Homo sapiens: one gene and its partner. The protein of the gene in region 1 purifies or fractionates together with the protein of each later gene. This does not show direct contact. Each region holds a gene or a part of one and is shown in the gene's direction. Other genes may lie near its edges.

The links. Proteins that work in one complex are often made in the same cells at the same time.
Region 2: the proteins of ARRB2 (region 1) and IGF1R purify together in Homo sapiens (affinity purification with western blotting; 4 studies listed by BioGRID). This does not show direct contact.

Annotation. Positions count from the first base shown.
Region 1 is NC_000017.11:4,705,789-4,713,747, forward strand, and holds the start of ARRB2 (beta-arrestin-2), read left to right. Parts: upstream 1-4,843; 5' UTR 4,844-4,933; coding exon 4,934-4,956; intron 4,957-4,970; exon of another isoform or gene 4,971-4,985; coding exon of another isoform or gene 4,986-5,101; intron 5,102-7,959. UniProt on the Homo sapiens protein: Functions in regulating agonist-mediated G-protein coupled receptor (GPCR) signaling by mediating both receptor desensitization and resensitization processes.
Region 2 is NC_000015.10:98,959,539-98,965,030, forward strand, and holds the end of IGF1R (insulin-like growth factor 1 receptor isoform 1 precursor), read left to right. Parts: 3' UTR 1-4,992; downstream 4,993-5,492. UniProt on the Homo sapiens protein: Receptor tyrosine kinase which mediates actions of insulin-like growth factor 1 (IGF1). Binds IGF1 with high affinity and IGF2 and insulin (INS) with a lower affinity. The activated IGF1R is involved in cell growth and survival control.

The DNA of each region.
Region 1 (7,959 bases):
CCAGGCTAGAGTGCAATGGCACGATCTCGGCTCACTGCAACCTCCGCCTCCCAAGTTCAAGTGATTCTCCTACCTCAGCCTCCCAAGTAGCTGGAAGTACAGGCACCCACCACCATGCCCAGCTAATTTTTGTATTTTTAGTAGAGACGGGGCTTCACCATGTTGGCCAGGCTGGTCTCAAACTCCTGACCTCAAGTGATCTGCCGGCCTCAGCCTCCCAAAGTCCTGGGATTACAGGTGTGAGCCACCCCACCTGGCCCGTTTTTCCTCTTATTGCCTCCTATCCAATCCTTCAAGTCCTGGCATTCAAGGCCTCCAAAATACATTAACCCAATAGCGTTAATTTTTCTCCATCTCCACTGCCGCTCCGGTCCAAATTACCATTCACTCTCACCTAGTCTATTACAAAGCCTTCGTTGCTCTCTGCTTCCCTCTTAGCACCCTGTAGTCCCTTCACACAGCAACCAAAGTGGTCTTTTCAAATGTAAACAAGTTGTTGTCACTCCTAGCTTCAACCCCTCTGTGGCTTCCAAATGTGATGAGAATGAAATCCCATCTCGTCACTGAGGCCTAAAAGAATCCACCCAATCTGACTCATACCCACCTCCCTGACCTCAACACATACCACAAGTACCCTTTTCCTTCTCTCTTCCTATTCTTGAGCCACGCTAGCCTTCTATTTTCCAGCAAAGCCCATTCTCACATCCGAACCTTTGCACATGTTGCTGATTATGCTGGAGAAACTGTCCTTTGATTCTATGTAACTAACGCCATTTTGCCATCCTGAGACGACTTCTTTTTCGGTAGCTCCCACTCCAACCCCCATCAGCCTCCATCACATTTGCCTGTTTATAATTCATGTCATTACCAGAAATTTGCTTTCTTATTAACTATCTCTTGTCTAAAATACAAACTCCATGAAAGGGCTCCTGTCTCCTACACTATGCTATTCCTATCACCTAGAACAGTGCCTGGTACATAAAAGGTGCTGAAAAAATATTTCCCCAGGCTGGAGTGCAGTGGCATGATCACAGCTCACTGCAGCCTTGACCTCCCAGCTCAAACGATCCTCCCACCTCAGCCTCCCTAGTACATGAGACTCTAGGCACTAGCCACTATATTTGGCTCATTTTTCGTTTTTCGGAGGTTTTTTGTTTTCTTTTTTCCTCGAGATGGAGTTTCGCACTGTCACCCAGGCTGGAGTGCAGTGGCGCGATCTTGGCTCACTGCAAGCTCTGCCTCCCAGGTTCAGGCCATTCTCCTGCCTCAGCCTCCCAAGTAGCTGGGACTACAGGCGCCTGCCACCATGCCGGCTAATTTTTTGTACTTTTTTGTGGAGACAGGGTTTCACCACGTTAGCCAGGATGGTCTTGATCTCCTGACCTCGTGATCCGCCCACCTCAGCCTCCCAAAGTGCTGGGATTACAGGCGTGAGCCACCACGCGCGGCCCGTTTGTTTTTGAGACGAAGTTTCACTATTCTCACTCAGGCTGGAGTATAACGGCACGATCTCAGCTCACTGCAACCTCCGTCTCCCAGGTTCAAGTGATTCTTCTGGCTCAGCCTCACGAGTAGCTGGGATTATAGGCTAAATTTCACGATGTTAGCCAGACTGGTCTCGAACTCCTGACCTCAGGTGATCCACCCCCCTCGGCCTCCCAAAGTACTGGGATTACAGGCGTGAGCCACTGCACCCAACCCCCTCTGCTTTAAAAACCAGTACTGGTTCCACATGTCCTTCTGTGGGGCCCTCCATCTCACTCCATCTGCTATACAAAATCCTCCACAGCCTGTTCCAGACTTCCCCACCAACACTACGCAACAGGACGTGCCTTGTCTCTCTCTTTGAAATGCCCTTTCTCAACTTCTGCCCAGCCAGGCGCGGTGGCTCACACCTGCAATTCCAGCACTTTGGGAGGCTGAGGCAGGTGGAACACAAGGTCAGGCGTTCGAGACCAGCTTGGCCAACATGGTGAAACCCCGTCTCTATTAAAAATACAAAAAGTAGCCAGGCATTGCAGGTGTCTGTAATACCAGATACTCACGAGGCTGAGGCACAGAATTGCTTGAACCCAAGAGGCAGGGGTTTTGTTGAGCCGAGATCCCACCACTGCACTCCAGTCAGGGTGACAGAGTGAGACTCCATCTCCTAAAAAAGAAAAAAAAAAAGAGGCTGGGCGCAGTGGCTCACATCTATAATTCCAGCACTTTGGAAGGCGCAAGCAGGCGGATCATTTGAGGTCAGGAGTTCAAGAGCAACCCGGCCAACATATTGAAACCCCATCTCTACTAAAATATATATATATAAACTAGCGAGGCGTGGTAGTGGACACCTGTAATCCCAGCTACCCGGGAGACTGAGGCAGAACAGCTGGAACCCAGGAGATGGAAGTTGCAGTGAGCCGACACAACACCAGTGTCCAGAATTTGTAGGGGGTCTCACTGACTTTAAGAATGAAGCCATGGACCCTCACAGCAAGTGTTACAGTTCTTAAAGGCAGCATATCCGGAGTTTGTTCCTTCTGACGTTCGGATGTGTTCAGAGTTTCTTCCTTCTGGTGGGTTCGTGGTCTCGCTAGCTCAAGAGTGAAGCTGCAGGCCTTTGCGGTGTTACCCCCCTTAAGGCCGTGTCTCCGAAGTTATTCATTCTTCTTAGTGGGTTCGTGGTTTCACTGGCTTCAGGAGTGAACCTGCAGACCTTCCCAGCGAGTACTACAGCTCATAAAGGCAGTGTAGACCCAAAAAAGGAGCAGCAGCAAGATTTAACCGCAAAAAACAAAAGAACAAAAGGTCTACCTAACAGAAGAGTACCCCAGTGCATTGCAATTGCCGGTTCAGGCAGCCTGCTTTTATTCTCTAATCGGCCCCACCCACATCCTGCTGATTGGTTCATTTTACAGAGAGCCGATTGGTCCATTTTACAGAGAGCTGATTGGTCTGTTTTGGCAGGGTGCTGATTGGTGCATTTACAATCCGTGAGCTAGACACAAAAGTTCTCCACGTCCCCACTAGATTAGCTAGATACAGAGTGTAGACACAAAGGTTCTCCAAGTCCCCACCAGAGTAGCTAGATACAGAGTGTGGATTGGTGCATTCACAAACCCTGAGCTAGACACAGGGTGCTGATTGGTGTGTTTACAAACCTTGAGCTAGATACAGAGTGCCGATTGGTGTATTTACAATCCCTTAGCTAGACATAAAGGTTCTCCAAGTCCCCACCAGACTCAGGAGCCCATTTGGCTTCACCCAGTGGATCCCGCTTGGGGGCCGCAGGTGGAGCTGCCTGCCAGTCCGCATGTGCTTGCACTCCTCAGCCCTTGGGTGGTCGATGGGACTGGGTGCCTTGGAGCAGGGGGCGGTGCTCGTCGGAGAGGCTCGGGCCGCACAGGAGCCCACGGAGGGGGAGGGGAGGCTCAGGCATGGCGGGCTGCAGGTCCCGAGCCCTGCCCCGAGGGAAGGCAGCTAAGGCCCAGCGAAAAATTGAGCACAGCAGCTGCTGGCCCAGGTGCTAAGCCCCTCACTGCCCGGGGCTGGCCGGCCACTCCGAGTGCGGAGCCGCCGAGCCCACGCCCACCCGGAACTCGCGCTGGCCCGCAAGCACCGCGCGCAGCCCGGGTTCCCGCCCGCGCCTCTCCCTCCACACCTCCCCGCAAGCTGAGGGAACCGGCTCCGGCCTTGGACAGCCCAGAAAGGAACTCCCACAGTGCAGTGGCGGGCTGAAGGGCTCCTCAAGCGCGGCCAGAGTGGGTTCCAAGGCCGAGGAGGCGCCGAGAGTGAGTGAGAGCTGCCAGCACGCTGTCACCTCTCACCACTGCACTCCAGCCTCGGCGACAGAGTGAGACTCTGTCTCAAAAAAAAAAAAAAAAACAAGAAAAAGAAAAAAAACTTCTGCGCATCCTTCAGAAAGACTGTCCTCATCTGTTCCCCGCTCTGGACAGCCTGCACTCCCTCCACCCCCGCCCGGGCCAATTGCTGTTAGCGGCTGTGTCTTCTGACTCAGACCTCTGTAATAGCATTCCTGGGTAATACCTGTGTATGTGTCTCCTCAACTATTCTAGGAAGGCAGGGGCCATGGTAATTCGTATGTGTCCCCATCGATTGGCATAGTGAATAGCATAACATAGGCACGGATGGATGGGTCCATAGATGGACCGATGGATGGGAGCGGGTGAGTGAGTGGATGTTAGCTGGGATGGGTGGGTGAAGGAGATGGATAGTCAGAGACATTGGAAAAGGGAACCCTGCGAAGATCAAATGCAAACACCAGGAGGAGCTGACACGCTGCAGTGAAGAAGCGGGAGGGCTGGCCACAGAAGGCGGCACGCTCCGAGTGGAGCAGGTGAGCGGCGCGCACTGAAGCAAGCATCACGCAATTGAACCGCTCACCCACGTGTTCCCCCCCACCATCCTCCTTCCCAGACGGCGCTTCAGCTCATTCCACCGCCCCCAGCAGCCCGGTCGCCCCCACCGCCACTGAGAAAGCAAACAAAGGGGAGGAGACCCCTGCAGGTTCTGGATGCCGAAGGCCAATCGAAAGACTTAGATCCCCTGGAAGGCGGGCGCCTTGGTTTAGGGGGGTCCAATCGGTTTCAAGGGGTTGCAGCGGGGCGGGGAGATGGGCGGGAGGAGTGGGAGCTGGCCCCGCGCGCGGGGGAGGGCTACCAGGCTGGGAAGGAGCGCGAAGGGCTGGGGGCGGAGCCAATGGCCCCGCGTGTCTGCTAGGAGAGGGCGGGCAGCGCCGCGGCGCGCGCGATCCGGCTGACGCATCTGGCCCCGGTTCCCCAAGACCAGAGCGGGGCCGGGAGGGAGGGGGAAGAGGCGAGAGCGCGGAGGGCGCGCGTGCGCATTGGCGCGGGGAGGAGCAGGGATCTTGGCAGCGGGCGAGGAGGCTGCGAGCGAGCCGCGAACCGAGCGGGCGGCGGGCGCGCGCACCATGGGGGAGAAACCCGGGACCAGGTAAGGGAGGTGGGGCCACGCGGCGGGGCATGGGCGGCGGCTCGGGGCGGGGGCTGGGACGGTCCCAGACGAGGGCGCAGCGGAGAGGATCTGGGGGCCGGACGCCTGGGTCCCTAGGGACAGCCATCCGGGGCCGCACGCGCAGGTCCTCGAGGATAATGAGGGTGGGGGGGAAATGCCCGGGCCCCTGCAGAAAGCGAGGCCTGAGGGGGATCAGAAAAACCGGTGTCGGGGTTCTCGCAGGGATGTGGGGCCAGACTACTGGGCTCTCCCGTGCAGGCTGCGATGCAGGGATGGAGGAAGGAGGAGCAGGTGGCTGGCCCCGAGGGGTCGTGTACGGGGAGGCTGGATGCCGGGACGGGGGGGATCCACTCCAGACTCGCGCCAAGCCAATGGAAAGCCTCCTATCCAATATCCCCCAGGTAGTCGCGCTGCCCACACCTGTCCCGAGGGCCGGGTGGCTCCTCACCCAAACTTCTACCTTCCCTTGGGTTGCCAGGAGCAACAGCTTCATCTTGGGGGAGCCGAGTGCGTGGCGACCCTCCCTGAAACTAGATCGTATCCCTCTCTCTGGGGGTGGGGGAGGCAGTATTCACCCTGGGCGCGCGTCCACTCCCCGGATGTTTTCTGTGCAATCGAGGCTCTTTCCTTCCACTGATACCCCGAGTTCTCTTTTTTGGTCTCTAGCAAAATCCACTTCCTGTTGTGACTCAACACCCCCAAGGGGCAAGGGGTGGATGCCTGAGTCGCAGGGGAGCGGGAGCAAAAGACGAAAAGGTTGGGGCTGTAGGCCTCAACTCAGAGGGTATCAGGAATAGGGAATTGGTCCTGAGCTCTGGCTTGCTCTGCAAAACATCATATCAACCCCACTTCCAACCTATAGAGTATGAGAACCCGGGTTTCTGAGCATCAAGTAGACGAGCATCAGAAAGAGATCATCAGAGAGATGATCCGTCTCCTGGATCAGGGTTTAAACATCCCAGAGAAAGGGGAAGTTGCTGACTTGTGGGAGGCCCCTGATTTCCGTCATGTGGTTCAGGGAGTGGGACGGATGGACCAAAGGAGACTGCTAACTTGGCACAATTTCCCTCACCCCCATGAAATTCTGGGCCACAGGAAATGGAGCGAATAGCAGGAAGTGTGAAAGGACATCTGCTTCAGCTACCCCTGCTCCCACTGGGCACCTCCCTGGTCATCCCCACACTCTGCCTCCTTGGCCAGCCTAGTATATGCACGCTGCTCCTCCCCAGCCTGGCAGGAGGTGGCTGGGTTAGGATCCAAAGGGCAAGTGCCTTGCAGCTGCTCCAGGGCAATTGCCCCAGAACCACACTCCAGTTGGCCCACTGATTGTGGCTGTCACAGCCCTGTGCCAGGGCTCCTAATGGGAGGACACCCTGGGACAAAGAGGAAAACCAGAAGCAAAGGGGAGGGAGAGCCTGGATGATGCCACGGCACTCAGCTCCCAAGTTGGGATGAAAGATAGGGTGTTTATTCTAGCGGCTACCATATCGATGTGTATTCTCTTTTATTGGTTAGGAATACCTGGGGCCCTCCATACCCTTTGCCTTACAACCTTTGGACAGCTTGGCTTTCTGGGAAGAAGGGGCAAGTGAAGTTGTAGCAGAAACTGGGCCTATGGTAGAAACCATGTAGGGCCAAAGGCCAGGGTCATTGCTCTCCTATATGCTCCAGCTGTCAGAGCTGGAGACCAGATGGAAAGATGGTTAGGTCTTACCCAGACACTGTGGTAACCTGCCCATTGGGGTCCTCTGGGAATGGGGTGGTAGACTTGGAAGAGGGATGGGCTAGTTGGCAGGATTTCACGTTTCTGCTATCTATCTGAGGATCCTTTCCAGGGATCACTGCTGAGGCAGAGTGGATTGGAAGGAGTAAGGTGGTGCTTCAAAGAACAGGCCCACAATTGGCCAGATCACTGGGGTTGCCAAACACTTCCTTACCCTCCCAGCAATGGGTGGAGTCCAGGCTTAAATTGTTTCAGCAACTGGAAAGCAAATAACCTTCAATTCAACAAACTATTTATGCCAACTGCAGAGACAGATAGTGTAATATTGATCGAGAGGATGGACTCGGAGCCAGACTGCCTTGGTTTCTATTAATTCCCACCATTTACTCCCTCTGTGACCTTGAAACACTTGACCTCTCTCTGCCTCAGTTTCCTCACCTGTAAAACAGAGATATTAGGAGCTCCATCACTGGGTGGTTTTATTTAATTTAATTAATTTATTTATTTATTTATTTTTTGAGACAAAGTCTTGCTCTGTCACCCAGGCTGGAGTGCAGTGGCTCAATCTCAGCTCACTGCAACCTAAGGCCGGGCACGGTGGCTCACGCCTGTAATCCCAGCACTTTGGGAGGCTGAGGCGGGTGGATCACCTGAGGTCAGAAGTTGGAGATCAGCCTGGCTAACATGGGGAAACCTCGTCTCTACTAAAAAAATACAAAATACAGGCCAGACACAGTGACTCAAGCCTGTAATCCCAGCCTTCTGGGAGGCTGAGGCGGGCGGATCACTAGAGGTCAGGAGTTTGAGATCAGCCTGGCCAACATGGGGAAACCCCATCTATACTAAAAATATAAAAATTAGCGGCCGGGCGTGGTGGCTCACGCCTGTAATCCCAGCACTTTGGGAGGCTGAGACAGGTGGATCACGAGGTCGGGAGATTGAGACCATCCTGACTAACACAGTGAAACCCCATCTCTACTAAAAATACCAAAATTCGCCGGGCGTGGTGGTGGGTGCCTGTAGTCCCAGCTACTCGGGAGGCTGAGGCAGGAGAATGGCGTGAACCCGGGAGGCAGAGGTCGCAGTGAGCCGAGATCGCACCACTGCACTCCAGCCTGGGCGACAGAGTGAGACTCCGTTTCAAAAAAAAAATTAGCCAGGCATGATGGCAGGCACCTCTAATCCCAGCTACTCAGGAAGCTGAGGCATGAGAATCGCTTGAACCCAGGAGGTGGAGGTTGCAGTGAGCTGACAGCGTG
Region 2 (5,492 bases), on another chromosome or scaffold:
CCCAAGAGCCCCTTTGCTTCTTGCTGGGGGACCAGGGCTGTGGTGCTGGCCCACTTTCCCTCGGCCAGGAATCCAGGTCCTTGGGGCCCAGGGGTCTTGTCTTGTTTCATTTTTAGCACTTCTCACCAGAGAGATGACAGCACAAGAGTTGCTTCTGGGATAGAAATGTTTAGGAGTAAGAACAAAGCTGGGATACGGTGATTGCTAGTTGTGACTGAAGATTCAACACAGAAAAGAAAGTTTATACGGCTTTTTTGCTGGTCAGCAGTTTGTCCCACTGCTTTCTCTAGTCTCTATCCCATAGCGTGTTCCCTTTAAAAAAAAAAAAAAGGTATTATATGTAGGAGTTTTCTTTTAATTTATTTTGTGATAAATTACCAGTTTCAATCACTGTAGAAAAGCCCCATTATGAATTTAAATTTCAAGGAAAGGGTGTGTGTGTGTGTATGTGTGGGGTGTGTGTGTGTGAGAGTGATGGGACAGTTCTTGATTTTTTGGGTTTTTTTTCCCCCAAACATTTATCTACCTCACTCTTATTTTTTATATGTGTATATAGACAAAAGAATACATCTCACCTTTCTCAGCACCTGACAATAGGCCGTTGATACTGGTAACCTCATCCACGCCACAGGCGCCACACCCAGGTGATGCAGGGGGAAGCCAGGCTGTATTCCGGGGTCAAAGCAACACTAACTCACCTCTCTGCTCATTTCAGACAGCTTGCCTTTTTCTGAGATGTCCTGTTTTGTGTTGCTTTTTTTGTTTTGTTTTCTATCTTGGTTTCCACCAAGGTGTTAGATTTCTCCTCCTCCTAGCCAGGTGGCCCTGTGAGGCCAACGAGGGCACCAGAGCACACCTGGGGGAGCCACCAGGCTGTCCCTGGCTGGTTGTCTTTGGAACAAACTGCTTCTGTGCAGATGGAATGACCAACACATTTCGTCCTTAAGAGAGCAGTGGTTCCTCAGGTTCTGAGGAGAGGAAGGTGTCCAGGCAGCACCATCTCTGTGCGAATCCCCAGGGTAAAGGCGTGGGGCATTGGGTTTGCTCCCCTTGCTGCTGCTCCATCCCTGCAGGAGGCTCGCGCTGAGGCAGGACCGTGCGGCCATGGCTGCTGCATTCATTGAGCACAAAGGTGCAGCTGCAGCAGCAGCTGGAGAGCAAGAGTCACCCAGCCTGTGCGCCAGAATGCAGAGGCTCCTGACCTCACAGCCAGTCCCTGATAGAACACACGCAGGAGCAGAGTCCCCTCCCCCTCCAGGCTGCCCTCTCAACTTCTCCCTCACCTCCTTCCCTAGGGGTAGACAGAGATGTACCAAACCTTCCGGCTGGAAAGCCCAGTGGCCGGCGCCGAGGCTCGTGGCGTCACGCCCCCCCCGCCAGGGCTGTACCTCCGTCTCCCTGGTCCTGCTGCTCACAGGACAGACGGCTCGCTCCCCTCTTCCAGCAGCTGCTCTTACAGGCACTGATGATTTCGCTGGGAAGTGTGGCGGGCAGCTTTGCCTAAGCGTGGATGGCTCCTCGGCAATTCCAGCCTAAGTGAAGGCGCTCAGGAGCCTCCTGCTGGAACGCGACCCATCTCTCCCAGGACCCCGGGGATCTTAAGGTCATTGAGAAATACTGTTGGATCAGGGTTTTGTTCTTCCACACTGTAGGTGACCCCTTGGAATAACGGCCTCTCCTCTCGTGCACATACCTACCGGTTTCCACAACTGGATTTCTACAGATCATTCAGCTGGTTATAAGGGTTTTGTTTAAACTGTCCGAGTTACTGATGTCATTTTGTTTTTGTTTTATGTAGGTAGCTTTTAAGTAGAAAACACTAACAGTGTAGTGCCCATCATAGCAAATGCTTCAGAAACACCTCAATAAAAGAGAAAACTTGGCTTGTGTGATGGTGCAGTCACTTTACTGGACCAACCCACCCACCTTGACTATACCAAGGCATCATCTATCCACAGTTCTAGCCTAACTTCATGCTGATTTCTCTGCCTCTTGATTTTTCTCTGTGTGTTCCAAATAATCTTAAGCTGAGTTGTGGCATTTTCCATGCAACCTCCTTCTGCCAGCAGCTCACACTGCTTGAAGTCATATGAACCACTGAGGCACATCATGGAATTGATGTGAGCATTAAGACGTTCTCCCACACAGCCCTTCCCTGAGGCAGCAGGAGCTGGTGTGTACTGGAGACACTGTTGAACTTGATCAAGACCCAGACCACCCCAGGTCTCCTTCGTGGGATGTCATGACGTTTGACATACCTTTGGAACGAGCCTCCTCCTTGGAAGATGGAAGACCGTGTTCGTGGCCGACCTGGCCTCTCCTGGCCTGTTTCTTAAGATGCGGAGTCACATTTCAATGGTACGAAAAGTGGCTTCGTAAAATAGAAGAGCAGTCACTGTGGAACTACCAAATGGCGAGATGCTCGGTGCACATTGGGGTGCTTTGGGATAAAAGATTTATGAGCCAACTATTCTCTGGCACCAGATTCTAGGCCAGTTTGTTCCACTGAAGCTTTTCCCACAGCAGTCCACCTCTGCAGGCTGGCAGCCGAATGGCTTGCCAGTGGCTCTGTGGCAAGATCACACTGAGATCGATGGGTGAGAAGGCTAGGATGCTTGTCTAGTGTTCTTAGCTGTCACGTTGGCTCCTTCCAGGGTGGCCAGACGGTGTTGGCCACTCCCTTCTAAAACACAGGCGCCCTCCTGGTGACAGTGACCCGCCGTGGTATGCCTTGGCCCATTCCAGCAGTCCCAGTTATGCATTTCAAGTTTGGGGTTTGTTCTTTTCGTTAATGTTCCTCTGTGTTGTCAGCTGTCTTCATTTCCTGGGCTAAGCAGCATTGGGAGATGTGGACCAGAGATCCACTCCTTAAGAACCAGTGGCGAAAGACACTTTCTTTCTTCACTCTGAAGTAGCTGGTGGTACAAATGAGAACTTCAAGAGAGGATGTTATTTAGACTGAACCTCTGTTGCCAGAGATGCTGAAGATACAGACCTTGGACAGGTCAGAGGGTTTCATTTTTGGCCTTCATCTTAGATGACTGGTTGCGTCATTTGGAGAAGTGAGTGCTCCTTGATGGTGGAATGACCGGGTGGTGGGTACAGAACCATTGTCACAGGGATCCTGGCACAGAGAAGAGTTACGAGCAGCAGGGTGCAGGGCTTGGAAGGAATGTGGGCAAGGTTTTGAACTTGATTGTTCTTGAAGCTATCAGACCACATCGAGGCTCAGCAGTCATCCGTGGGCATTTGGTTTCAACAAAGAAACCTAACATCCTACTCTGGAAACTGATCTCGGAGTTAAGGCGAATTGTTCAAGAACACAAACTACATCGCACTCGTCAGTTGTCAGTTCTGGGGCATGACTTTAGCGTTTTGTTTCTGCGAGAACATAACGATCACTCATTTTTATGTCCCACGTGTGTGTGTCCGCATCTTTCTGGTCAACATTGTTTTAACTAGTCACTCATTAGCGTTTTCAATAGGGCTCTTAAGTCCAGTAGATTACGGGTAGTCAGTTGACGAAGATCTGGTTTACAAGAACTAATTAAATGTTTCATTGCATTTTTGTAAGAACAGAATAATTTTATAAAATGTTTGTAGTTTATAATTGCCGAAAATAATTTAAAGACACTTTTTTTTTCTCTGTGTGTGCAAATGTGTGTTTGTGATCCATTTTTTTTTTTTTTTTTTAGGACACCTGTTTACTAGCTAGCTTTACAATATGCCAAAAAAGGATTTCTCCCTGACCCCATCCGTGGTTCACCCTCTTTTCCCCCCATGCTTTTTGCCCTAGTTTATAACAAAGGAATGATGATGATTTAAAAAGTAGTTCTGTATCTTCAGTATCTTGGTCTTCCAGAACCCTCTGGTTGGGAAGGGGATCATTTTTTACTGGTCATTTCCCTTTGGAGTGTAGCTACTTTAACAGATGGAAAGAACCTCATTGGCCATGGAAACAGCCGAGGTGTTGGAGCCCAGCAGTGCATGGCACCGTTCGGCATCTGGCTTGATTGGTCTGGCTGCCGTCATTGTCAGCACAGTGCCATGGACATGGGAAGACTTGACTGCACAGCCAATGGTTTTCATGATGATTACAGCATACACAGTGATCACATAAACGATGACAGCTATGGGGCACACAGGCCATTTGCTTACATGCCTCGTATCATGACTGATTACTGCTTTGTTAGAACACAGAAGAGACCCTATTTTATTTAAGGCAGAACCCCGAAGATACGTATTTCCAATACAGAAAAGAATTTTTAATAAAAACTATAACATACACAAAAATTGGTTTTAAAGTTGACTCCACTTCCTCTAACTCCAGTGGATTGTTGGCCATGTCTCCCCAACTCCACAATATCTCTATCATGGGAAACACCTGGGGTTTTTGCGCTACATAGGAGAAAGATCTGGAAACTATTTGGGTTTTGTTTTCAACTTTTCATTTGGATGTTTGGCGTTGCACACACACATCCACCGGTGGAAGAGACGCCCGGTGAAAACACCTGTCTGCTTTCTAAGCCAGTGAGGTTGAGGTGAGAGGTTTGCCAGAGTTTGTCTACCTCTGGGTATCCCTTTGTCTGGGATAAAAAAAATCAAACCAGAAGGCGGGATGGAATGGATGCACCGCAAATAATGCATTTTCTGAGTTTTCTTGTTAAAAAAAAATTTTTTTAAGTAAGAAAAAAAAAGGTAATAACATGGCCAATTTGTTACATAAAATGACTTTCTGTGTATAAATTATTCCTAAAAAATCCTGTTTATATAAAAAATCAGTAGATGAAAAAAATTTCAAAATGTTTTTGTATATTCTGTTGTAAGAATTTATTCCTGTTATTGCGATATACTCTGGATTCTTTACATAATGGAAAAAAGAAACTGTCTATTTTGAATGGCTGAAGCTAAGGCAACGTTAGTTTCTCTTACTCTGCTTTTTTCTAGTAAAGTACTACATGGTTTAAGTTAAATAAAATAATTCTGTATGCATTTCTGTCTCTGGTTTGGTTTTGTCCCTCCTGGAAGCATCACTACACTTTGGTGGCAGGGAAGCTGAGCTATGTGGGGCACGTGTGTTCACGCATGTTGCCTGGAAGCGTTCTCCAGAAAAGCATTGCCTCTTCTCTGACAGCTGAGCTTTCTCAGCATGCAGATTGCCAGTAAAGACGACAGGGAAGCTATCTGTTTCTCCCTCCATTAAATCATCTGGAAAGAAATTTGAATACATAAATTACGAAACTCTGTACTGCAGTTCCGACTGATTTGTAGACTTTTTTCCTATACCTTCCACTAACAACAGTCAGGCCAAGGCAAGTCTGATCTGCATGACCCCAAGGCAGAGGACTTCAGTTCTTCACATTTCCCATGTGCTTTTTGGTCTTTCACAGCTGACATGCCCACCTCGGGGGGATGCTGGTGAGAACCCAGTGGGCCTCACGCAGAATGTGGGTCACTGGAGGAGCTCCAAAGTCCTAGTTACTTTCTAGCTG